7 linked regions of the Homo sapiens genome follow. The protein of the gene in region 7 purifies or fractionates together with the protein of the main gene of each other region. This does not show direct contact. Each region holds a gene or a part of one and is shown on either strand. Other genes may lie near its edges.

What was found.
Region 1: the proteins of IDS (region 7) and FBXO21 purify together in Homo sapiens (affinity purification with mass spectrometry; 3 studies listed by BioGRID and IntAct, with this or other methods). This does not show direct contact.
Region 2: the proteins of IDS (region 7) and GALNT18 purify together in Homo sapiens (affinity purification with mass spectrometry; 3 studies listed by BioGRID and IntAct, with this or other methods). This does not show direct contact.
Region 3: the proteins of IDS (region 7) and WDR47 purify together in Homo sapiens (affinity purification with mass spectrometry; 2 studies listed by BioGRID and IntAct, with this or other methods). This does not show direct contact.
Region 4: the proteins of IDS (region 7) and TCTN1 purify together in Homo sapiens (affinity purification with mass spectrometry; 3 studies listed by BioGRID and IntAct, with this or other methods). This does not show direct contact.
Region 5: the proteins of IDS (region 7) and PPT2 purify together in Homo sapiens (affinity purification with mass spectrometry; 3 studies listed by BioGRID and IntAct, with this or other methods). This does not show direct contact.
Region 6: the proteins of IDS (region 7) and COCH purify together in Homo sapiens (affinity purification with mass spectrometry; 3 studies listed by BioGRID and IntAct, with this or other methods). This does not show direct contact.

Annotation. Positions count from the first base shown.
Region 1 is NC_000012.12:117,141,491-117,145,470, reverse strand, and holds the end of FBXO21 (F-box only protein 21), read left to right. Parts: 3' UTR 1-3,480; downstream 3,481-3,980. UniProt on the Homo sapiens protein: Substrate-recognition component of the SCF (SKP1-CUL1-F-box protein)-type E3 ubiquitin ligase complex.
Region 2 is NC_000011.10:11,444,006-11,447,505, forward strand, and holds part of GALNT18 (polypeptide N-acetylgalactosaminyltransferase 18), read right to left. Parts: intron 1-3,500. UniProt on the Homo sapiens protein: Catalyzes the initial reaction in O-linked oligosaccharide biosynthesis, the transfer of an N-acetyl-D-galactosamine (GalNAc) residue from UDP-GalNAc to a serine or threonine residue on the protein receptor.
Region 3 is NC_000001.11:108,993,603-108,997,102, reverse strand, and holds part of WDR47 (WD repeat-containing protein 47), read left to right. Parts: intron 1-1,265; coding exon 1,266-1,523; intron 1,524-3,500.
Region 4 is NC_000012.12:110,624,129-110,627,628, forward strand, and holds part of TCTN1 (tectonic-1 isoform 1 precursor), read left to right. Parts: intron 1-2,233; coding exon 2,234-2,364; intron 2,365-3,500. UniProt on the Homo sapiens protein: Component of the tectonic-like complex, a complex localized at the transition zone of primary cilia and acting as a barrier that prevents diffusion of transmembrane proteins between the cilia and plasma membranes.
Region 5 is NC_000006.12:32,152,765-32,156,940, forward strand, and holds the start of PPT2 (lysosomal thioesterase PPT2 isoform a precursor), read left to right. Parts: upstream 1-1,376; 5' UTR 1,377-1,640; intron 1,641-1,822; coding exon of another isoform or gene 1,823-1,830; coding exon 1,831-2,013; intron 2,014-2,265; coding exon 2,266-2,419; intron 2,420-2,923; coding exon 2,924-3,019; intron 3,020-3,106; coding exon 3,107-3,214; intron 3,215-4,176. UniProt on the Homo sapiens protein: Catalyzes the cleavage of thioester bonds from S-palmitoyl-CoA or S-palmitoyl-N-acetylcysteamine (unbranched structures) but does not have activity against palmitoylcysteine or palmitoylated proteins, branched structures or bulky head groups.
Region 6 is NC_000014.9:30,881,059-30,884,558, reverse strand, and holds part of COCH (cochlin isoform b precursor), read right to left. Parts: intron 50-3,500; exon of another isoform or gene 7-49; coding exon 1-6. UniProt on the Homo sapiens protein: Plays a role in the control of cell shape and motility in the trabecular meshwork.
Region 7 is NC_000023.11:149,476,488-149,478,897, reverse strand, and holds the end of IDS (iduronate 2-sulfatase isoform a preproprotein), read left to right. Parts: 3' UTR 1-1,910; downstream 1,911-2,410. UniProt on the Homo sapiens protein: Lysosomal enzyme involved in the degradation pathway of dermatan sulfate and heparan sulfate.

The sequences.
Region 1 (3,980 bases), on a different chromosome or scaffold from region 7:
TCTTTTTTTTTTAAATTTAAATGGGAATATAACACAGTTTTCCCTTCCATATTCCTCTCTTGAGTTTATGCACATCTCTATAAATCATTAGTTTTCTATTTTATTACATAAAATTCTTTTAGAAAATGCAAATAGTGAACTTTGTGAATGGATTTTTCCATACTCATCTACAATTCCTCCATTTTAAATGACTACTTTTATTTTTTAATTTAAAAAATCTACTTCAGTATCATGAGTAGGTCTTACATCAGTGATGGGTTCTTTTTGTAGTGAGACATACAAATCTGATGTTAATGTTTGCTCTTAGAAGTCATACTCCATGGTCTTCAAAGACCAAAAAATGAGGTTTTGCTTTTGTAATCAGGAAAAAAAAAAATTAATGAACCTTAAAAAAAAAAAAAAAGGTTTTGAAGGGAAAAAAAGTGGTTTCACACCTCTTGTTATTCCTTAGAGTCACTTCAAGGCCTGTTTGAATGTGGCAGGTTAGAAAGAGAGAGAATGTCTTTCATTTGAAGAGTGTTGGACTTGTGTGAAAGGAGATGTGCGTGTTGGAATCTGCTTTTCCAAGCCGCCAGGGTCCTGACGGCAGCAGGACGAAGCCTGTTGTGGCGTCTTCTGGGAAAGCCTGACCGTGTGTTCGGACGGCACTGGCTCCTTTCCGAAGTTCTCAGTAACTGAGCCCAGAGTAACTGCACGCCTTTGTGCAGCTCTGGAGCTCCACCAACTCTCGGCCTGCCAGTTCTCAAGCGAGCTAATCTTGTCATTAATCGATAGAAGCTAACTTCCGAAGTTAGGACCTAGTTACTTTGCTCTCAACATTTAAAATAATGCAGTTGCTCTAGTGAATGGGGCGTTAGGGGCCTGTCTCTGCACCTGTCTGTCCATCTGCATGCAGTATTCTCACCCATGTTGAATGCCTGCTGCTTGTTTACCCTTTGGAAACCCTGGGGTGACCAAGGTTTGGAAAGCCACCTGAGACCACTTCATAGCAAGGGAAGGCTTTAAGCAGTTACTAGAAAGAGATGGGGATTTGGCCCCTGGCTCCTCCAGCCTGAATGAGCTATTTAATCCACTGTCCATGTTCCTCATCAGTCAAATCCAAAGTCAAAGGATTTGAACCTGCATCTGGAAACGTAACCACTCACAGCACCTGGCCCGCCAAGGTTGGGAGGATTGTACACTACTTTCATTTAAAGGGGAAAGTTTGATAATACGGAATTAATTAATATGAATGAGATGCATTAATAAGAACCTGAGCATGCTGAGAGTTGCAATTGTTGGTTTTCTGGTTTGATTGATTTCCTTTTTTCTTAGACACATCAAAGTCAAGAAAGATGGTTTTACCTTTACTGACCCAGCTGTACATATGTATCTAGACTGTTTTTAAATGTCTTTCTTCATGAATGCTTCATGGGGCTCCAGGAAGCCTGTATCACCTGTGTAAGTTGGTATTTGGGCACTTTATATTTTTCTAAAAACGTGTTTTGGATCCTGTACTCTAATAAATCATAAGTTTCTTTTTAAAAATTTTCCAAAACTTTTCTCCATTTTAAAAAGCCCTGTTATAAACGTTGAACTTTCACAATGTTAAAATGTTAAATATTTGGATATAGCAACTTCTTTTCTCTTCAAATGAATGCCAAGATTTTTTTGTACAATGATTAATAAATGGAACTTATCCAGAGAAACCACGCAAATGGCCTGCCCAATTTCGTTTGAGGACAGAAAGCCCAGCCATGACTTGAGTAGAATGTCTCTCACCTCTCTTCGGATCTAAATATGAAAAGTATGTTCTGCTGAATTTTTCTGAGCATTGGTGAGCGGACAGCCTACCTGTAAACCATGACCTCCTTGCCAAACGTTAATTTTATCAGCTCACTAGTAACCTTTGAGAATTATCTGGTTGTCATGCAAAGATTGCACTTTCTGAATTATGTTAAAACACATGTTGTAAAATGAGAACTGCTCATGCTTTGAAAGAAAACCAGGTTCTTCGTGCGTTCTGTTGCCGTTGATTTGAATGGCTGTGCTGTATACGATGTGTCCAGAATGTCTTCAGAGCACTGTTTCCGTGTGATGTTACTACCTACTATGTGGGAGGAAAAAAGGTTATAGGTTAAACAAAGTCAATTGACTCTATGGTGGTGTTTCTCAATACCTGTGACGCACAGTACTGTGCGTCGTGACTTTCTAAGAGAAGTGTGCAGCGGGTGTGTCATCTTGATATATGAAACCCTGGAATTTCCCTCCCCTACACGCACGCACCGTCCCCGGGGGTCCGGTGTTTGCAGACATGCTTTGAAAAGCTGTCTCAGTGAGACATCAGTTATGTCCAAAATGAGTTTACCTTAGAATCAGACCGGTTTTGCCAGGCGTCATGTTTGCAAACATTATCCACCTAATCAGATTTTGAAAGGCCGGCTTTCATGTCGCCTGCCTGAGACTCATAACAGATCCCCATTATAAGCGCGTTTACACAGCAAAATGATTTTATTGAGAAAACCAGCATTAAGTACTGTTGCCGGCTCAGTTTTCCATTGCATACTATCTACTTAAAGTCCCGTTCTCATTTGTAAGTGTTCCGATCTTTCCCCACGGAGAAAACTGAGCAGAGCTGCCGTGTCGCAGGCTTTCTGCTGCTGATGTCGCATCTCTTTGCTTTCCCCTCCTTAGTCCATACTCCAAGTAAGTGAACTCAGACTACCAGCAACTTTTTAACTGAAAAGTATCTGTCCATGATGATCAAGATGCAGCTCTTCGTGTTTTTATTTTGTCTTTTTTTTTTTTTTTTTTTTTTGGAGGGAAGGAGAGACATCAACTGGACAAAATGCAAAATTTGGATGTGGGACAATTGCTTTTTGGAGACGTGAATAGCTGTACTGTACGTATTATTTTGTGTGGCATGCTAACTTTGAGCCGGGCACTGGCCTAATAAAGTCTTTGTAATCCTCCCAGCAATCCTATAAAGCAGACGCAGATAGTAAAGATTTTAGGCTTTGCAGGCCACGTACAGACTGTCACATGTTCTCTGTTTTTAAAAGTGTCAACAACATTCTTAGCTCAAAAACAGGCTGCAGGTGGGATGGTGCCCACAGGCCATAGTTGGCTGACCCCGGCTAGGGTGTAGGCACTTAGCATTCCACTGTATAAAGGGGAAACCCAGGTCATACTGCGTGTGCGTGGGTGGGAAGCCGGATGTGGAATACAGGTGGTCCCTGAGTCTCCAGGAACCACTGAGCTCCAGCTGTTCACACCCACACTCTGCGGCGCAAGCAACTACCTCGCCACGGTTTAGCCTTGGTCTAGCAGCGACTTTAACCTTGAATGTTGCATTTCTGAAAAATTTAGAATCTTGAAAGTAAAGGACGTCCCTCCGGTGAATAAAATTAGGCGCAATTATAGAATACATGTATTATGGCCACGTAGCAATGACTGTATTAGGGCTCTGCTAGTTCTGTAATAAATAGACCCGAAAAGCAACAATGGCTCAAACACCATAGAACGTTTTTGCTTCCATAATATTGGGCAGGGGAATGGGCTGGCAGGGCAGCCCTTATGCAGGCAGGCATCAGAGCAACCTGAGCCGTCCATCTCCATCCCGCCTGAAGTAGCGGGGAGCATGGAGGGCTGAGACCATCTGGGAGCTTCCATGAGCCAGGTGTGGAAGTGGCACCCCTTATGTCCACTCATTTTGCACGGAGGTGGGAAACGTCCAGTTGTGTTCTAGGAAAGGAGACAGAACACAGTGTGGGTGGAAGCTCTGGTCCACTGCACGGGCCACTCCAGTGTGCTCCTCCACCGCAGGAGACAGCCACGGACAGCTAAGCCAGGCTGTCCGTGGGGACGGACACATTTCTGCAGTCTCCGGCTCAGTCGCCCCTGCCTAAGTAGCACATAGAGGCAGTGGAGTTCCCTTCAGATGGCACTGTCTGTGTACACTCACGGTCTCCACCGCAGATGGCTGCAGCAGCGGGGAGCAG
Region 2 (3,500 bases), on a different chromosome or scaffold from region 7:
GACATCTTTGGGAGGCCATTATTCTGCCTATCCATGAAGCCAGGACCCCCCAAAGTTCAAAGATCCCAGATGTCTCTCTAGAGTCTGGACTGTTAAAACAACTCTCCCCAGGGAAGCCGGCACAGGGAGGTGCCTTGCAGATGCCACCCTCCAGGCCCCGCCTCCCTGCCACAGAGAGGTGCCTTGCAGATGCCACCCTCCAGGCCCCGCCTCCCTGCCACAGAGAGGTGCCTTGCAGATGCCACCCTCCAGGCCCTGCCTCCCTGCCACAGAGGCACCAGAGGGACAGTGCTTCTGTGACCATCACATCCAGGCCACTGCCTTACTAAAAGCCTGCGAGGACAAGTCCTCCCCGCCACGGAGCCTGGGAAATGGTCAGCAGACTCGCCCTCCCACCAACCTCTGTCTGGGTTCCCATCTCAGTGTAAACTCCAGGAGATATCCGTCCGACGCTTTGTTGGGTGCCGGGCACATCATGAGTGCTCAGTAAATGTTGGCTGGATAAAAAAATAAACGAGGCCTAGCAACTGGCTGGACCGATGTTTTTCCTTCTAGTTGTGTCCTGTCTTGTCTATAAGGCACTGGCACAGCATGGTCCTATCTCAGCCACATGACAAGCTGGGTCAGATTACATCTTTCAGTACCAAGAAAAAAAGGAGACAAAGTAAGTGACTAGCTAGAGGTGAGAGAAAGGAGGGTGGGCAGGATTCTGAACACTCACTTTCTGATCTAGGAATGAAGCCAAGAATAACATCAGGGTTAGAATTTGGAAGAAAAGAGCCAAGAATACCAAGAGCAAAGTGTGGAATACAAGCAGCAGGAACAGAAGTCCCGAAGAGCAAACTGGAATTCACAAGAGGCACAGGGGCTCCGGCTATGGCAAGAGCCACACAGCATGAATCTTCCAGAGACTGCAGTGACTGTGGGCTTCCTCTCCACATGCTGACCCACATCCTCTCAGTCCAAATCCCAACATTAGCCAGAGCCCAGGCATCATTCTGAGCCTTGGCAACAAGCCTTGGTTTCATGTGCACTAAAACAGTTTTTTCCAACATGTAGACGCCGACCTTCCTCCCTCCAAAACTGATCAGCAAATGCTCAGTGCTATATTGTTAAAGCGGGCCTGCCACTCCCATTAGAGTGACACAAATAGATGCCTCAAGGCAGTGTGAGGACAGTGGTTACATGCACAAATTCTATTGCCAGACCACCTGCCCCAGCTCTGCCACTAGTGACCTTGGGCAGGAGATATCATCTCCCCATGCCTCAGTTTCCTCTTCTGTAAGATGAAGGCTAATCATAGGACCTACCTCAGAAGGTTTTACTGTGAAGACTCAAGGAGTTCTTATAAATTAAGTGACAAACATATGCCTGAAAACATGGCTTATCCTATATAAATGTTTGCCAGTGTCGTTTGAAATAGGATGAGAGTAAAATTTTGAAAAGATGTTTCCAAAATGAATTAAGAAGGATGAGCCAAGCAATGGCCTTGTTACAAGGCAGGGATGTTTTTATGGAAATTAACAGACAAAAGGAGGCACTGTTTTACCTAAGCACATACTTGTTTTGTGTGGTCCACCAACAGCTCTCCAATCTTGGGCGTGCGTCTGGCACGTGAGCTGAAATAGAGCTAGACGGAGCCTTCCAAGTACATGTGCAAAGAGAACCCTCCACTGTTAAAGCCACTTTCACAGAGCCCTCCCTGAGGAGTGAGGAGGCTCTGCTCTGCCTTTTATCAGAGATTCTGTTTTTCTGTCTGGAAAAAGGGGCTGACAGAAGTTGCTTGGTGCCACGGGGGAGGTGTGGAAGCTCCACAGACTGTAAAGTTCTGTGCAGAGGGAAGGTCTCTCTGTAAGGACGATTGCTCCTCTCCAGCAGCTCAGAAGAAAACTGTAGAATTCTGCCCACCTAAAGTCCTTCAGAGTTCCTCCCTCTCTCAGGCAAATTCCTCCCACAGGTGAGAGTGGGTGGGGCGCTTCTCTCAGTCAAAGATCAAGGGCTCCCACATGCGCTCTCATTGTGCAGCATTGTGCACAGTCAAATAAACAATGGTGGGCCGATGTCAAAGCCACGATCCGGCATCTGAGACATGGGCTCAAGGCTCAGCTCAGTTGCTTATCTGACTGTGTGACCTCAGACAACACTCTTTCCGCTCTTCAGTTTCCTCAACTCAAACCGGAAGAATCTACCATTGCCTGGCGTACCTTCACTGCCCTGTTAATGTGGTCCAAATGGGAAGGGCATTATCGGCACGTCCAGCACTATGGGAATCCCAGTTGTTGTTATAACCAGGTTATAATCTGTAAAATCCACCCTTTCCTTGGCTTCCTTTCCATTTTCCCTTTAATTTTGAACAAATATGGATTGAGCTGTGCCTGTGTTTTGTAACAGATTGACTGAAAAGTCCATGGCTCTTCTTCTGGCCAAGGTCATGGCCAAGTCCCCTGCAGGAACTAGAGGGCCCTATTCCTGATGATCTCTTCTCCAGAGCCCCTGTGTGCTGCCCCCACCAGACCAGCTCCTCTCCAGACCCAGGAGTGGTCTCTGCAGCTCCTCTGTGGACTGAGGCCCCATGACACTTAGCTGAGGTCACTTTCAGGATATTTCCAGAATCCAACCCCATCTCAGCACCTCCCCTGCTGCCATCATGGTCCAGGCCACCACTGCCTCTCACCTGGAAGCCTCTTAATTGGTCTCCATGCTCCCAGCCTTGCCCCCTCGGTCTGTTCTCAGTATAGCAGCCACAGGCACCTTTGCAAGTGACAATTAGCATATTGCTAATCTGCTCAAGCCCTTCCCATGGATCTCTGTCTCACAGAGTAAATGCTGCACTCCTTGCAAAAGCCTATGAAGCCCTTCTCCTGGGATTCACCTTGACTGCACATCGGAATCACCCAGGAGCTCTAAACAATACTGAAGCTGAGTGCTGCCCCAGAAACACTTATCTAATTGGTCTGGGGTGTGGCCTTGGCATCAGGATTGTTTTTTAAGGCTCCCGTGATGTGTAGAATGGGCAGCAAGGTTGAGAACCACGGCCCTAATGATCTGCTTCCTGTTGCTCCTCTGGCCTCATCTCCAACTACTGCCCCCTTACACACCCCATTCCAGCCACAGGGGCCTCCTTCCTCTTCCTCAAACATGACGTGCCATGCGTGCTTCTGCCTCAGGGCCTTTGCACTTGCCACTTCCTCTGCCTGAAAGGTACTCCCCCCATCCTCCAACAGTACCCTCATGGCTTGCTTCCTCTTCTCCTCCAGGTCTTTGCTCAAATGTTACCTCTTACTGAGGTCTTCTCTGACCACGCAGGAAAAATTGCAGCTCCCCACTCTTGTCCCAGGTGTCTCTCTCTCTCTCCGACTTTATATTTCTCCATAGCACTCACCACCACCTAACATACTGCATATTTGACTTCTTTGTTTTGTTTACTCTCTGCCTCCACCCAACTAGAATGCCAGCTCTGTGAAGCAGGGGTTTCTGTATGTTTTGTTCACTGCTTTGTC
Region 3 (3,500 bases), on a different chromosome or scaffold from region 7:
GCTCTGTCGCCCAGGCTGGAGTGCAGTGGTGTGATCTTGGCTCACTGCAGCCTCCGCTTCCCAGGTTCAAGTGATTCTCCTGCTTCAGCCTCCCAAGTAGCTGGGATTACAGGCATCTGCCACCATGCTTGGCTAATTCTTGTATTTTTAGTAGAGATGGGGTTTCACCATGTTGGCCAGGCTGGTCTCGAACCTGACCTCAAGTGATCCGCCCACCTCAGCCTCCCAAAGTGCTGGGATTACAGGTATGAGTCACCGCACCTGGCCCATGAGTCTAAATCTTAAAAGAGCAATGTAGCTTCCTGTTTGTGCCCTTTGTAGCCCTGATCTCAATATGGAGTCAGGCTACAGCAATGGAGAGACTATTTGTTGAGGGCAAGGCCCTGAGGCTAACTTGTTTTGCTCCCTGTTTTATCTCCCTATTGTCTAGATCAGAGACTGGCCAATAGTATTTGTAGAATGAATTAATGAGTGAATAAGTACATGTGGAGTATTAGGGATGCCATTTGACTTTTTACTCATCATGGCTTGCTCAAGTCATCCATTTCCTACTTGATACTACTCAAGACAGATGGAATGAAAATGGCTTGTTTTGTTGATGAGCAATTTTGGTAGTGGTGATATTGTTATTGACTCTTTCTGAAAGTTAAGTTTTAAATGGAAAATTAAACCAAAGTTATATTGGGGAAGAAAAAGAATTTTTTTTCTGTTTTTATTGTAAAAGCTGCTTTTAAAAAGTCTGTGATACTGGCTGGGCACAGTGGTTCATGCCTATAATCCCAGCACTTTGGGCGGAAGGCAGGAGGATAGCTTGAACCCAGGAGTTAAGGACCAATCTAGGCCATATAGGGAGACTCTGTCTCTACAAAAAATTTAAAAAGTTAGCTGGTCATGATGGTATGCACCTGTTGTCCCAGGTATGTGTGGGAGGTGGAAGGATTGCTTGAGCCCAGGGCTGCAGTGAGCCACGATCATGCCACTGCACTTCAGCCTGGGCAACAGAGCGAGACCCTGACTCAAAAAAAGAAAAGTCTATAATGCCCATTATGCCTATCTTCTGTAGTGTTATACTATGGGAAAATGTGGATCTTCTTTCAGTATCTTGGTTATGTCTTAAGTTGATGGTGGTAATTTTTAACACTAAATTTGCCATAGATTATATATTATATGTGCATATTTTTACCTTTTCACACTTTTAACCTTGTATATATTAGGAATGCAATTAAGTTTTTATTTTAAAATGATTACATTGTTTAATTTTATAGGTCCATTCAAAAGCTTGGTGAATTAAATATTGGAATGGATGGCCTTGGTAATGAGGTATCAGCACTCAACCAGCAATGTAATGGGAGCAAAGGCAATGGATCTAATGGTTCTTCTGTGACTAGTTTTACTACACCACCCCAAGACTCTAGTCAGAGATTAACACATGATGCTTCAAATATTCATACAAGCACTCCTCGTAATCCTGGATCAACAAATCACATACCTTTTCTGGAGGAATCACCTTGTGGAAGCCAAATGTAAGTGCTTGACTTTGTAAAACTTGGAAATATTAACTTACTACTAATGGTTAGAAGGTTGAACTTGTCTTTGGAGCCTTATAAATAAAAGTTTTTAGAGCTTACTGCCTACCAATTTTTTTTCCTAATCTGCCTTCATTTGTCTATATTCTCTTCTACCAACTTCTAAGTCTCTTTATAGTTTCCATTTTCCTTCTATTTTTCTTTTTGCTTCCTGACTACCACCAAGGCAATTATATTTTTTATAAGCCATCCTACTCAAAGAACCTACAGTTTTAGGATCTCTAAATCTTGATTTTCTTTTTTCTTCAGTTGGCATCTTTGAACAAATAATCTTAAAATTCAGACTTTCAGGGCATAGAAAGATGTTTTACAATCTGGTGGAATGATTACAGCTGCAGTGTTGGCTGCTTTGGCAATTACAGCAGTGGAAGACTGCATATTTACATTTTCACTATTCAGGGAAAATTTTTATCTTGCTATCATTAGTATACAAGTGTTAATTTATGCAATGGGAATAGTTAAGGAGCATTTTCTATATTCTTAGCATAAAACACTTTTCAGGGTGGTTCATTAAAAAATGTATAAGATGAGATTCCCAGCTTTTTGGCTGAGATTAAGTACAAAAATGTATAACTTGCTTTTGGCACTTGGATGCTTATAGGAATTCACTTTATAAATAATTAGTGTCAAAAACCTAGTTTTATTTCAGAGCATAAATTCAATTTTTGATTCTTTTCTGAATTTTTATTTTTTTACTATTTGCTTTTTTATTACAGCTTTCATAATAGTTGTTTTGAGTACTTTCAAAACAAGAATTCAGATTTTAAAATTTAATTTTTGTTTTTGTCCATGTAATATACATACATGGTTTCAAAAGACAAATAGTACTTCAAGGCTTAAAATAAAACCCATCTTTGTCCATGGTTTTATTTCTTATTGGCTGCCATTTTCAACCCATTTGGCTGTTTCTCTTGATATATATACATACAATTTTTTTTTAAGATGGGATCTCACTATGTTGCCTAGGCTGGTCTCAAATTCCTGGGCTTAAGTGATCCTCCTACCTCAGCCTCCCAAAGTCCTGGGATTACAGGAGTGAACCACCACACCCAGCCTTTTGCTATATATTTCCACATTTCTGAAAAACATACTTCTATTACTGTTTTGTTTTGTTTTTTTGAGATGGAGTTTTGCTCTTGTTGCCCGGGCTGGAATGCAGTGGTGTAATCTCAGCTCACTGCAACCTCTGCCTCCCAGGTTCAAACAATTCTCCTGCCTCAGCCTCCTGAGTAGCTGGGATTACTGGCATGTGCCACCATGTCCAGCTAATGTTTTGTATTTTTGGTAGAGACAGGGTTTCACCATGTTGGCCAGGCTGGTCTCGAACTCCTGACCTCATGATTCGCTCACCTCGGCCTCCCAAAGTGCTGGAGTTACAGGCATGAGCCACCGCACCCGGCCTCTATTACTGTTTTTGCTATCTGTTGATTCTCTACCATACTCCTCATACATAGCACCCTCACTTTGTCTATCCCTTATTTTCAGTATATATCAATTTTTGTTTAAATCAGTATCAGTGTGATTTTGTTTAAATCAGTATCACATTACTATGACCTTGTAAATGTTATTTACAACTGGGTCATGTAGTGCCATATGATTATATTTCTTTTTCATATAGCTTCTTGTTTTTCCTGGAGACAGTAATTGCCTCAAGTTGGTGTTCATGTGTCTGTACATGATGAGTTTTCTTAATATTTATCACTAAACTATCTGTAAGTGCTTTGACAGAATTATAAAATCATAAAACTTCTCTCATTATTGTAAAAAGTGTCAGAAATTTCTCTATTCCATTTTTTCCCCTTGGGAGATGTCCCTCCAGGATCACTCCTGCTTCACTTTATATTTACTGCTTTTTGATCACTTTATGTAGGTCTAGATAGAATCCTGGGACTTTCCTCACTGTTCTGCTGGGAT
Region 4 (3,500 bases), on a different chromosome or scaffold from region 7:
CCAGGCTGGTCTTGAAATCCTGGCTTCAAGTGATCCTCCTGCCATGGCCTCCCAAAGTACTGGCATTGTAGGCGTGAGCCACTGTGCCCAGCCTCTATGTTTTTTTGAGATAGGTCTTGCTCTGTCACCCAGGCTGGAGTGCAGTGACACGATCATAGCTCACTGTAACCTTGCTCCTGGGCTCAAGCAGTCCTCCTACCTCAGCCTCCCAAGTAGTTAGTACTACAGGCATCTGCCAGCATGCCGGACTAATTTTTTCTTTGTTTTTTGTAGAGATAGGGGTCTGTGTTGCCCAGGCTGGTCTTGAACTCCTGGCCTCAAGTGATCCTCCTCAGCCTCCCAAAATGCTGGGATTACAGGCATGAGCCATGGTGCTTGGCCTGTATCTGTATCTATAGCAAATTGATTGGGATTTGTCAAATCTGGGATTGGTTGAAGACTTAACTCATAACTTCTTTTTTTTTTTTTTTTGGGAGAGAGAGTCTCACTCTGTCGCCCAGGCTGGAGTGCAGTGGCACGATCTTGGCTCACTGCAACCTCCCAGGTTCAAGCAATACTCCTGCCTCAGTCTCCCCAGCAGCTGGAACTACAGGCACATGCCACCACGCCTGGCTAATTTATTTTTGTATTTTTAGTAGAGACAGGGTTTCGCCATGTTGGCCAGGCTGGTCTTGAATGCCTGACCTGAGGTGATCCGCTCACCTCGGCCTCCCAAAGTGCTGGGATTACAGGCATGATCCACTGTGCCTGGTCCTGTACCATAACTTGTAAGCACTAAACCTTCCAGACGACTGATCTCAGGTGATCCACCCGCCTCGGCCTCCCAAAGTGCTGGGATTAGAGGCATGAGCCACTGTGCCTGGCCCTGTACCATAACTTCTAAGCATTAAACCTTCCAGATGACTCCACATTTTCTTACTCTCACAGTCCTTTGAAGACAGCTTTATTCTAAAGACAAGGAATTTGGATCTATTCTGGGTACTTTTAAACAATCTGAAGGTCTGCAAAATTTTATCTAATTGATGCTATCAGAGTTTGTAAAGTTCACTGACATAAAAATTATACCCTGATCTACGTTCTTGACAAGATTTCCTTAAAGGTTATTCTACTTGTCTCAATTTTGTTTTTTTCTGTTAGAGGAAAAAGTTTTAAATGCCAAGCTTTTTCTTTTTTAAAAAGAGATGAGGATCTCACTATGTTGCCAGACTGGCCTCGAACTCCTAACCTCAAGTGAGCCTTGCATCTTAACCTCCTGAGTAGTTGGTAATACAGGTGCATGCTACTGTGACTGGCCCAAATGCAAAATATTTCAACACAGAATAAACTAAATAAAAATGGATTCAGCCAGCTGTGGTGACTCATGCCCAGCACTTTGGGAGGCTGAGGCAGGTGGATCATCTGAGGTAAGGAGTTTGAGACCAGCCTGGCCAACATGGTGAAACCCTGTCTCTAATAAAAATACAAAAATTAGCCAGGCATGGCAGTGCACACCTGTAGTCCCAGCTACTCGGGAGGCTGAGGCAGGAGAATCACCTGAACCCAAGAGGCAGAGGTTGCAGTGACCCGAGATCGTGCCACTGCACTCCAGCCTGGGAGAGTGAGGCTACATCTCAAAAAAAAGGATTCAATTTTTTTTTTTTTTTTGAGATGGAGTCTCACTCTGTCACCAGGCTTGAGTGCAGTGGCGCGATCTCGGGTCACTGCAACCTCTGCCTCTTGGGTTCAAGCGATGTTCGTGCCTCAGCCTCCCTAGTAGCTGGGATTACAGGCACCCACCACCACGCCCAGCTAATTTTTGTATTTTTAGTGGAGATGGGGTTTTACCATCTTGGCCAGGCTGGTCCCCATCTCCTGACCTTGTGATCCGCCTACCTCGGCCTCCCAAAGTGCTGGGATTACAGGTGTGAGCCACCGTGCCCAGCCGGATTCAATTCTAATATGCTTTCTTTTTTCTTTCTTTCTTTCTTTTTTTTTTTGTGAGACAGAGTCTTGCTCTGTTGCCCAGGCTAGAGTGCAGTGGCGCGATCTTGGCTCACTGCCAGCTCTGCCTCCTGGGTTCATGCCATTCTCCCGCCTCAGCCTCCCAAGTAGCTGGGACGTCATGCTTTCATAAATATCCTCCACGTAACTGTTAACATAGTACAGTACAAGCATCTGACAGTTTTAAAATAATTTTGCTAAGATTGTGTGCTTATGTCTTGTAACTTTGTATTATTATTTTTTTAATTTTCAGGGGCGACAGCCAGTTTTGTAGTCAAAAAGCAGTCATCTATTCATTGAATTTTACAGCAAACCCACCTCAAAGAGTATTTGAACTTGTTGACCAGATTAATCCATCTATTTTCTGCATTCATATTACAAACTGTAAGTATTTGACATTGATATATTTTGTGAAGCTCTGGAAAATTTTTCTCAAAGTTATGGAAAAATGTGTCAGATTTATTTTATAATTATGATTATGGTTTTTTTGAGACAGAGTCTTGCTCTGTCACCCAGGCTGGCGTGCAGTGGCGCAATCTCGGCTCACTGAAACCTCCACCTCCCAGATTCAAGTGATTCTCCTGCCTCAGCCTACTGAGTAGCTGGGATTACAGGTGCCTGCCACCATGCCTGGATAATTTTTGTGTGTGCGTGGTTTTTTTTTTTTTTTTTTTTTTTTGAGACGGAGTTTCGCTCTTGTTGCCCAGGCTGGAGTGCAACGGCTCAATCTCGGCTCATCACAAATCCTCTGCCTCTTGGGTTCAAGTGAGTCTCCTGCCTCAGCCTCCCAAGTAGCTGGGATTACAGGCATGGGCCACCATGCCTGGCCAGTTTTGTATTTTTAGTAGAGACGGGGTTTCTCCATGTTGGTCAGGCTGGTCTTGAACTCCCGACCTCAGGTGATCCACCTGCCTTGGCCTCCCAACGTGCTGGGATTACAGGTGTGAGCCACTGTGCCCAGCCCTATTATTACTATTTTTTCTTTCTTTCTTTTTTTTTTTTTTTTTGAGGCAGAGTCTCACTCTGTTGCCCAGGTTGGAAAGCAGTGGCACGTTCTCAGCTCACTGCAACCTCTGCCTCCCGGGTTCAAGTGATTCTCCTGCCTCAGCCTCCCGAGTAGCTGAGATTACAGGTACCTGCCACCACACCCAGCTAATTTTTTATTTTTAGTAGAGACAGGGTTTCACCATGTTGGCGAGGCTGGTCTCAAACTCCTGACCTTAAATGATCCTCCTGCCTCGGCCTCTCAAAATGCCGAGATTACAGGTGTGAGCTGCCTTGTCCAGCCCTCAGTTAGATTTAAAGCAATTATTCTGTTTTGCTATATGTATAGTGTATATCTTTAGAGACCATTTCACAGGTAATAGGAAGTAACTTTATAGACCTGTGGGCATGCACATTTTCTTTAAAAGTAATTATGATTGTGTAGTTGTCTTTCGAAACCGTATACTTATCTTAAAAGTGTTTATAATATGCAGACATACATAGGAATCTAGGTTTCTATATATACATGTGTTTTT
Region 5 (4,176 bases), on a different chromosome or scaffold from region 7:
ACCAAGACGCATCTCCAGCTCCTGAGTCGACCTGCAGTACAGCGTTATTAGTCTTTTTATTTGCTTATTGCATCTTGGGAGCGCGTGGGTGGGTGAAGGGAGCGAGGATAGGAAGTCTATGGAGATTTACACCAGTTTTTTTTTTTTTTTAAACAAAAACACAGCCAGATAATTATTATTCTTCCCTTACGTCCCCCCAGCCCCCACCTGGGGCAGTCGCTCTCCCGGCTGCGTCCCTTTTCGTCCATGTCCTAGCAGAGACTACAGAGCAGTACAGAGGCTCTCGCTGAAACCAGTCCCAGGCTCCACAGAGTCAGATCACGGCTTCACACCAGTCGTTCTGGTCACTTAGGCGTTCGCGTGAGCGCTCAACCCCTTACCGCCACCTCATCGTCACTCTACACCATTCTGAGCGCAAAAATGTTTTGATTGAGACAAATTTAGACCAAGCAATGACCTTGTAAACAGAGAGAGGGGCTCAGACATGCTGAGAAATCCTTATCTCTAGAGAAACGTCTTTAAATGCTAAGTAAAAGCCCTAGCAAGTAAAAGCCCTGAGGCACTAGGGTGTCGGTTAGGGGTCACAGGCGGAGAGGTGGGGCGCCTGGGGGTTTCGGTAGGGAGCCACCCACAGATAACTCAGACAGCCAGATTCTGGGGGTCGTTCAGGTTGAAAGACTGGTCGAAATTACGCGGGCATGAGTCAGCGCATCCCTACGCGCCCTCCGCCCCTTGAGGGTGGGTCGCTTATAGGGAGGGGAGTAGAGTAGGGCAGGAGAAACTGGGCCAGGCTGCACTTAGCTCAAGGGGCCTCGAGGACTCTCTGCGTCTCTGGAGACAAGGGCACTACACGCACTTCAGAATGAAGAGTTGTAAGTCGCTGACCTGGGGCGGACTGGAGGGTGGGGTGGGGTGGGTGTTGAGGGGCACGCCCGGGCTGGCATCAGCCCTCCAGGCCACCCTGCCACTCACCCAGCACACGGCAAAATGCAGAGGACTACCTTTCCCTGGTCCGCCCCCTGGCCGCCCCTTGGGGAATGCAAACTTCGTGTTCTGCTGCGGAGCCAGACGCCTGTATTGGGAAGTGGGGAGAATCAAGGCGGGGAAATCGGACTTTTGGGTCGCTGGGGGCAACGAAGCCTGGAGAGGCCTTCTTTCCATTCCCAGAATATGTTTGCTGCTTTTTCCTCTCCCCACTGGCCTAAATGGATCGCTCCGCCTGTTTCCTCCCCAGCACCTAGGGCGCAATGGAATATTCCATTGCCCCTCCTGTCCTGGGTCTGTGTTGCGGGGAACGCTCGCGCGGTTGCCAGAGAAAGCCCCGGACGTGACGGATTTGCGCGACCCCAAGCAGCCCGCCCTTCCCCCTCCCATCCGTCATTCCCCTGCGCTCTCTTTCCTCACCCTTCCCCCCGCCACCGTGGGTTCCAGACTTGGGATAAGTAAACAGCGGGTGGAGCGAGGCCTACGGACCCAGGCCAGGTGGGAGTCTGCACTCTTCAAGGGGCCTGGGCTGCTGCTCACGGGTATTAAAGAACTCCGCGTTGTTCATGGCTGAGGCGATGCATTAGGAAGATCCTGGACCTAGAGAACAAGTCCCCCGAACGCTGAGTTGGAGGCGGGACTTCGGGTGCGCGTTGGTGCGTCAACGTGGTGGGGGGGTGTGTTTGTAGGGAGAGGGCTGGAGTAAGTTAAAAGTAGGCTATTTTGTGACACGGACCTGGTGTGGGAGCGAGAGGAGGTGGCTTGATTGCCGGGCGTCTGTTCCGAGGGAGGAGGGTGTTGCCATCTCCCTCACATGCCCTTATCACCCCTTTCTCAGGCGGGAGCATGCTGGGGCTCTGCGGGCAGCGGCTCCCCGCGGCGTGGGTCCTGCTTCTGTTGCCTTTCCTGCCGCTGCTGCTGCTTGCAGCCCCCGCGCCCCACCGCGCGTCCTACAAGCCGGTCATCGTGGTGCATGGGCTCTTCGACAGCTCGTACAGCTTCCGCCACCTGCTGGAATACATCAATGAGGTCTGGCAGGGGACACCTGGGTGCAGGGCGTTAGAGGCGTCTACTGTGGCAGGGGAGGGAGAGCGGGGAACTGAAAGCCACCCCTCTGGGCCTGCCCAGTTCCTCAGGGAGCTGGTGCTGGCGTGGGGGAGAGTTGGGGGACGGGATCCCTGGTTCTAGCAGGGTACAATAGACCTGTGGACGCGGGCCAGGGGGTGGCGTGTGGGAGCTTCTTAGCCTATCCCCGGTGGCTGCATTGCCCCCTTCCCACAGACACACCCCGGGACTGTGGTGACAGTGCTCGATCTCTTCGATGGGAGAGAGAGCTTGCGACCCCTGTGGGAACAGGTGCAAGGGTTCCGAGAGGCTGTGGTCCCCATCATGGCAAAGGCCCCTCAAGGGGTGCATCTCATCTGCTACTCGCAGGGTAGGCGACTCCCCTGCCCCTAACTCCTAAGCCCTATCTGAGGCTTGATCCTTATCTGAGGGACACTTCCTAGCGTCCCTTTTTCTGAACCACATTGCTCCAGGCACAACCCTGGTACCTGAGCCCTTCCTTTCTGACTTCCCTCAGCACCTGGGTCTCATCTCTGTCTTGAATGGGAGGGAGGCTCCCTACACTGCTGCCCTTTTGCTTCCTGTTACCCATGGTTCTTGGACATAAGGGCTAATGGGGCAGGTAAAAACATCCTAGAACTAGAGGCAGGAGGCCCAGCATCTAATTCGGGCTCAGTCACTTATATGATGTGTGACCTTTTGGCACAGGGTGTGCCTGCCTTCTGTAAGCCTCAGTCTCCTTTGTGTACAGTGTGTGTCTGTGTGTGTCTCTGTGTGTGTGTGTGTGTGTGTGTGTGTGTGTGTGGTGGGGGTGGGGGGTGCTGCTGGCTTTGCTGTCCTTAAGTGCCTGCCCAATGTGGTGTTCTGCTTACAGGGGGCCTTGTGTGCCGGGCTCTGCTTTCTGTCATGGATGATCACAACGTGGATTCTTTCATCTCCCTCTCCTCTCCACAGATGGGACAGTATGGAGGTGAGTGGGCACTAGACTCCATAGAATGCCCTGAGTTTTGGGGGAACAGAGGTTTATGGTCACTTAGCATTGCCATTCGCTTGCCAGACACGGACTACTTGAAGTGGCTGTTCCCCACCTCCATGCGGTCTAACCTCTATCGGATCTGCTATAGCCCCTGGGGCCAGGAATTCTCCATCTGCAACTACTGGCATGGTGAGTGGGGATGCTGAACTGGGGCTTCCATGGATCAGGTCAGTTGCTTCCACCTCTGCTACAACCAATAGCAGTGATGACAATAAAGATAACTTACATTTATTGAGTTATTTGAACAGGCTCTGTTCAGAATTTTTTTTTTTTTTGAGACGGAGTCTTGTTCTGTTGCCCAGGCTGGAGTGCAGTGCACCATCTTGGCTCACTGCAACCTCCGCCTCCCAGGTTCAAGTGATCCTCCTGCCTCAGTCCCCCTAGTAGCTGGGATTACAGGCAGGCGCCATCATGCCCGGCTAAGTTTTGTATTTTAAGTAGAGATGGAGTTTCGCCATGTTGGCCAGGCTGGTCTCGAACTCCTGACCTCAGGTGATCCACTCGCCTCGGCCTCCCAAAGTGCTGGGATTACAGGTGTGAACCATTGCACCTGGCCCAGAATGTTTTAAGTGTGTCACCTTATTGCCTTAGAAGGTTTAGTCTGATGTGGGAGTCAGCAAACCTTGTCTATAAAGGGCCAGAGAGTAAATATTTTTGACTTTGTAGGACATATAGTCTGTTTCACAACTCCTCAATTCTGCTGTTGTAGTGTGAAAGCAGCCATGTACCATATGTGAATGAATGTGCCTGTGTTCCAGTAAAACTTCATTTACAAAAACAAGTAGCAGGCTGGATTTGGTCCTTTGGTCACAGTTTGCCAACCTCTAGACCAGACCATGGGGCCAGAATACTTGGGTTTGAATCTTGACCCTATTGGGTGCCTTTGGGCAAGTTACTTAACCATTCTGTTACTCAGTTTTCCTTATCTGTAAAATATTATAGCATGTACTTCACCAGGTGGTTGTAAGGATTAAATAAATAAATGAATGCAATGTACTTTGAATAGTACCTGGCTCATATAGTAGATACTAGATAGAAGTACTTGCTATTGCCAGGTGTGGTGGCTCACACCTGTAATCCCAATATCTTGG
Region 6 (3,500 bases), on a different chromosome or scaffold from region 7:
TGTTCACTGAGTGGAAGAAAGAAAATGTTATTCAGGGAGAATTAAAAAGGTAAAATAAGCAACATTACATGCCTTAAAAAACAGTTTTAAAACCAGACAACACACAAGTTTCTTTCTTAATTCCATAGTACATAGTCAACTGAGGCATTGCATCCTTACTTGAATTATTGGAGATATTTCAGAGGTGTAACAAATAATTGCCATATTGAGGATTTATTATATTCTGGGTAATAAGCCAAAAGCATAACACATGTAAAACCTCATTTCATCATAGCTCTATAAGGTTGGAATTATCCCAATTATGTAAATGAAGAAACTGAGTCTCAGAGCATTTAGGGAGTTTGCCTGATGAAACACAGCTGCATTTTAAGTTCAAGTTGTCTGGCTGCAAAGTCCATGCCTAAACTATACGGAGAACTTGAAATCGGGCTTGGCTCAGAGCCTCGGGTTTAACAGAAGTCCGCAGAGTTGGGCACCAGGTAGCTAAACTAAATGAGGAAGTGGCTGGGTATGAGACTAGGGTCTGTTCCAGTGTGGGACCCCAGAGGCTCTAAGTAGTGTGGATCTATTAACTCAGAGCTCTCTGTTCAGGAGAAACAATTTCATTGATGTGACCGTCAACATTTTTTTAAAGGGACAAAGGTGAAATGAATTATAAAGTTACAATATTGAGTTTTTCTTATAATGACAATGACATTTGTGCACCTTAAAATTATGTGTATTGTAAGAGTTTTGAGATCTCATTTCCTATATTTAATATTAAAGGAATTTCAGCTCACTTTTATATAACTACTCTGTGTTCAGCAGAGACCGTTTTGAGTATAAACAACCACAGCACAATCTGTTGTGTTTAGTTTCTAGATGAGTCAGTATTTCCTAGTGCAAAATTTAAGATCTTAGCATTATCAGTAGCCATTTTATTCAAGATTTTTTGAGGGAGAAGTAGAACACTGACTGTATTTCTGCATACATACCTGATGGAATATTGGGTCATAAAATCAGATTTCATGGGTTGAAAACCTTTTCACTTGTGGTCACTTTTCAACTATCCAGATTATGACTTATGAAATTAGTCTCATTTTTGTATCCTTGATATATTCTGTTCTTTGACTTACATACATATAAACTTGACATGGTTTACCTATTCTAATGGTCTTTCTAAAACAGAAAAACTACAAAACTTTGTATGAGTCTACAAGGTAATGAAGAATTCATCTTCAAAAAGAATTGGGTCAAAGTAGTCAGAAAAAAGTACAAGACAAAAAGTACTGCAGGGGAATTTGCCTCATGGGATGTTAAAATGTGCAATAAAACTGTGATAATCAAAGCAGCGTAGAAAAAAATATGTAAGGATTAGCATATGAATCAAAGAAATAGACTTGCTCAAACTCAGGTATAAATGTGATACCATAAGTCAATGAAACAAGGAACACATTTTTTTTAAGGGTGAGAGACAAATGGTTAAATTATGTTAAAACAGTTAAATTTTCTTCTCATGCCAAAAAAATTCTATCTAATCTAAGAGCAGAGCCACTTGTAAAAAATAACAGAAATGAAATGGAAATTAATATTTGTAATAGCACTGTTTATACAACCTTACACACTGCTGATAGTAGTTTAAACTACTTCACCTTTCTAGGAAGCAATTTCGCTATTTATTTGTTTTTTTAGAGATGGGGTCTTTCTCTGTTGTCCAGGCTGGAGTAGAGTGGTGCCATCATAGCTCACTGCAGCTTTGAACTCCTGGGCTTGAGAGATCCTCACACCTCAGCCTCCTGAGCAGCTGGCACTACAGGCATGAGCCACTGTGCATGGCTCAATTTCACTATTTATATCAGAGGCTTTAAGTCAGAACCTCACTTTTAGAAATCTAACCTGATGAAATAATCAGAGATGGGCACAAAGATGATATAAGGATGTTCATCACAGTGTAGTGTGTAATGTAGTGAAGAAATAATAAGAATGACTAATCATGCAGCGGAATATTATGAAATATTTTTGATGAATATTTGTGATATGAGAAAATGCTAAAAATACTAAAGGATGAAAAAAACAGGATGCAGGGCATTTTTAATAGTCTGAGTTTTTAAAAAATAATACAGTCAAATATTTCCTTAAAATACTGAAGGGGCCAGGCGTGGTAGCTCACACCTGTAATCCTAGCACTTTGGGAGTCCGAGGCAGGTGGATCACCTGAGGTCAGGAGCTCGAGACCAGGCTGGCCAACATGGTGAAACCTTGTCTCTACTAAAAATACAAAAATTAGCCAGGCGTAGTAGTGCACACCTGTGATCCCAGCTACTCAGGAGGCTGAGGCAGGAGAATCACTTAAATCCAGGAGGCAGAGGTTGTAGTGAACAAAGATCGTGCCATTGCATTCCAGCCTCGGTGACAGAGCAAAACTCCGTCTCAAAAAAAAAAAAAAAAAAAAAAAAAAACCATTTTATAGTGATTATCTCTAGGGCATATGATTTAGAGCATTTCTTTTTTTGTGCTCTATGTATTTTCAAGCTTTCTATAATGAGCATATTCTATTTCTAAAAGCAATTAATAAATAAATATTTATTTATTTATTTATTTTTATTTTTATTTTTTGAAACAGAGTCTTGCTCTGTTGCCCAGGCTGGAGTGCAGTGGCACGATCTTGGCTCACTGCAAGCTCCACCTCCTGGGTTCACGCCATTCTCCTGCCTCAGCCTCCCGAGTAGCTGGGACTACAGGCGCCTGCCACCACGCCCGGCTAATTTTTTTTTTTTGTATTTTTAGTAGAGACGGGGTTTCCCCGTGTTAGCCAGGATGGTCTCAATCTCCTGACCCCGTGATCCATCCGCCTCGGCCTCCCAAAGTGCTGGGATTACAGGCGTGAGCCACCGCACCTGGCCAGCAATTAATAAATATTTTTAAATGAATAAAATAGAAAGGTCGTGCTTCAGATCACCAACCAAGAGAATATGGAAAGAGCTAAAAAGAATAACAGAATAGGGAGGTGGAATAGACATATCACTGCTTCTTCCTTCAGAAGAGAGAAATTAGGAATTGAGCAGAGTAGATAAGCAGAGGTGACTTGTGTAAGCAACAGGACTCTCCAGTCTACCTTCTGGTTCTTATATAGATAGCACACAGTTTTCTAAATTCTTTTATTCCAAAAAGGAGGCACTCAGATCTACTCAGTCTGCCCAGGCAGTCTTAGATCCTGAACTTACAGTTTGGGAACCCAGTGTGTCCATAACTCAAATGTTTATACTGAACTGACATGTACCCACTAAAAGAACTGATCATTTGTCATCATTCAAGACTCATTCAAATCTCCTCTCATTTGATTTTTTTCTTTTTTTTTTTTTTTTTTGAGACATAGTCTCACTGTTGCCCAGGCTGGAGTGCAGTGGTGCAATCTCGGCTCATTGTAACCTCTGCCTCCCGAGTCCAAGTGATTCTCCTGCCTCAGCCTCCCAAGTAGCTAGGATTACAGGTGCATGCCACCACATCTGGCTAATTTTTGT
Region 7 (2,410 bases):
TCACCTTTTAAAATAATCAAACATATTTATCTTTTCCTGTGTGATAGGTTTTTTTCTGTATCTTTTCCTGTTAAACACACAGACCCCTCCCCAATCTGGACATTGAATAAATATTCATTTTCCTTTGCATTGTTTGGGGTTTGGTTTTATGCTTACTGTGTCTCTCCACCCCATTATCAGAGTAATATATGCTCATTGCATAAAATCTGGAACATGTGAAAACTGGAGATGAAAAGAAGCCCAGCATTTGAGACATACCCACTGCTGACATTTGTATATTTCCTTTCATTCTTTTACCTGCCTAAAGACATATATGCAGATATGGACATATTTAGCTTTACATACATGCAGACTACCACATATAATCTATATCTTGTTTTTTTGATCTAACACAATGTTAGCTTGGTTTTTTATGTCATTGACAGTTCTTGATTAACAGCTGTAATGGCTGCACAGCCCTGCTTCATTAATTTTTTTTTTTGGACTGAAATGTATGTACCACGTTCCGCTTATCCATTCATCCACCAGTGACCACTTGGGTCATTTCTACCTTTTGGCCATTGCAATAATGTTGCTGTCAACAAGGATGTACAAATATCTGTTCGAGTCCCTGCTCTTAATTGTTTTGGGTATACACCCAACCTACATTAATCTTTAATCACTTAAGATGTTGGGGTTTGTGCTGGGAGGTAACCAAGTGACTCTGGAGCAGCCTCACCCTAGCTACAGAGGGAAACTGACTCTTCCCTCTCTGCCCAATCTTTTGCCGCCTGTCAGGTTCCCAAGCTGTCCATACCTTACTGTGTGAAGCGCTTTGGGTATAAACTCCCAAATAGAGGCTCAGCCCCTTTTCCTTTCCCAAGTCCATCCTGCAGGTTATAGCTCTTCAGAGGAATCTCTTGAATTCTGGCCTGGGATCTGGGATTAAAGTAGAACCCAGGGTGTCCCTTGGGGCCTTAGGCATAGCCCGTTGTGGTGGAACCTGCCATCAGCCCCACTGCACTCAGTGGTCCCCTGGTACTTCAGGACAGTTTCTCTCTTCTGCACATGAGAACTTCAAGCAGAGAGGACTGTCAGTTGTTGCCTTCACATCACCAATCGTTTGGCCATAATGGCCAAGAGCCCTCACTGCTCTTGGGTCTTGCCTTTCCACATGTTACTGAAAGCTCCCGTTGGTGTCCCTGTCCACTAACTCACCTGATGGGACAGATGCCACTTTCCTCTGAGTGTCTGATAAAACACAGTCTGTTGTGGGGAGCCCACGCTCAAGGGTTTTCTTTGGGATCAGAGTTTCCCGGCTATTACTCCATGCCCTGCCTGACATCACTGTCATGTATGGTGCTAATCACCAAAGGATGCCCTTGTTTGATTCTGGATTCTAGGTGATAGTCCTTATCCTCTGATGGGGGAAGAGTTTGGGTGGGAGAGAACAAACCGACAAGTTGGTTCCAGATGAGGTGGCTGGGAGCCAACCCTCAGGTACTTGGCTCTGAGTAATGTGACGGCCCAGGCAAGAGGGCTCCCACTGCCAATGAGGAACAAAAGCTCAAGGTCTAGTAGTGTATTCAGCACATGCTAGGAAACAAGAGTTGGGACGTGGACAAGGAGAGGAGCAAAGGCCAGGGGTTAACTGCTTTTGGTTTTTCCTCTATAAAAGTCAGGGACTATGATTTATATGGGTGAGAAGGTTTGGAGTAGGACTGAAGCTGCCATTTACAAACCCCTTGCCCTAATTTATTGTAGTTTTGGGTGTGTTTCTGAAAGAACCTTTTGCAGGTGATTTTTATTCAGTACTCATTAACTTACAGCTTTTATGAATTCACATCTTCTACACTATTGAAAAACATAAGTTTGTATTGTGTTAAGTGCAGCATGAGTTATTATATGAATAAATCACATTAAATTTGCCATTATCGTGTGTGCAATTCTTGCTGCTGGTTTGGGACCGCTTGGTGCTGCCTTAAAATAAAAGGAGCCATTTAACAGAGCTTGATACCGTGGTACAGGTGTGCCCCCTTAAAGTATCCAACCTGTTCCTCCCCATGTGAGGGCCAAGGCAGCTGTGGTGTGGGTTTTATTAGGGAGTTGAATTCTTGAGGGTAGATGGTGAGTTGCACTTGACCATAGACACACTTTTCTGGGCAGTGGTATGTCTCTCAGCTTGCCCTGCAGTTACAGTACAGAGACTCCCCAGAAAGAAAGAGGAAGTGGGCTGACCAATTAGGTAGGCTTAGGGAAACCATATATGCAATAGCAACAAGGTAAAGGAAGCAAATTAGTGGGTTCTTGGGGTTCCAACTGGAAATTTGCCTGTTTAGTGGTCTTGGCTTAGTGTCTTCATGAGCCTTAGTTTATCTTTTTCTACCTATCCTACTGGTTTCGACTAAAAATTCGGAAGGCAGTGCTTCTT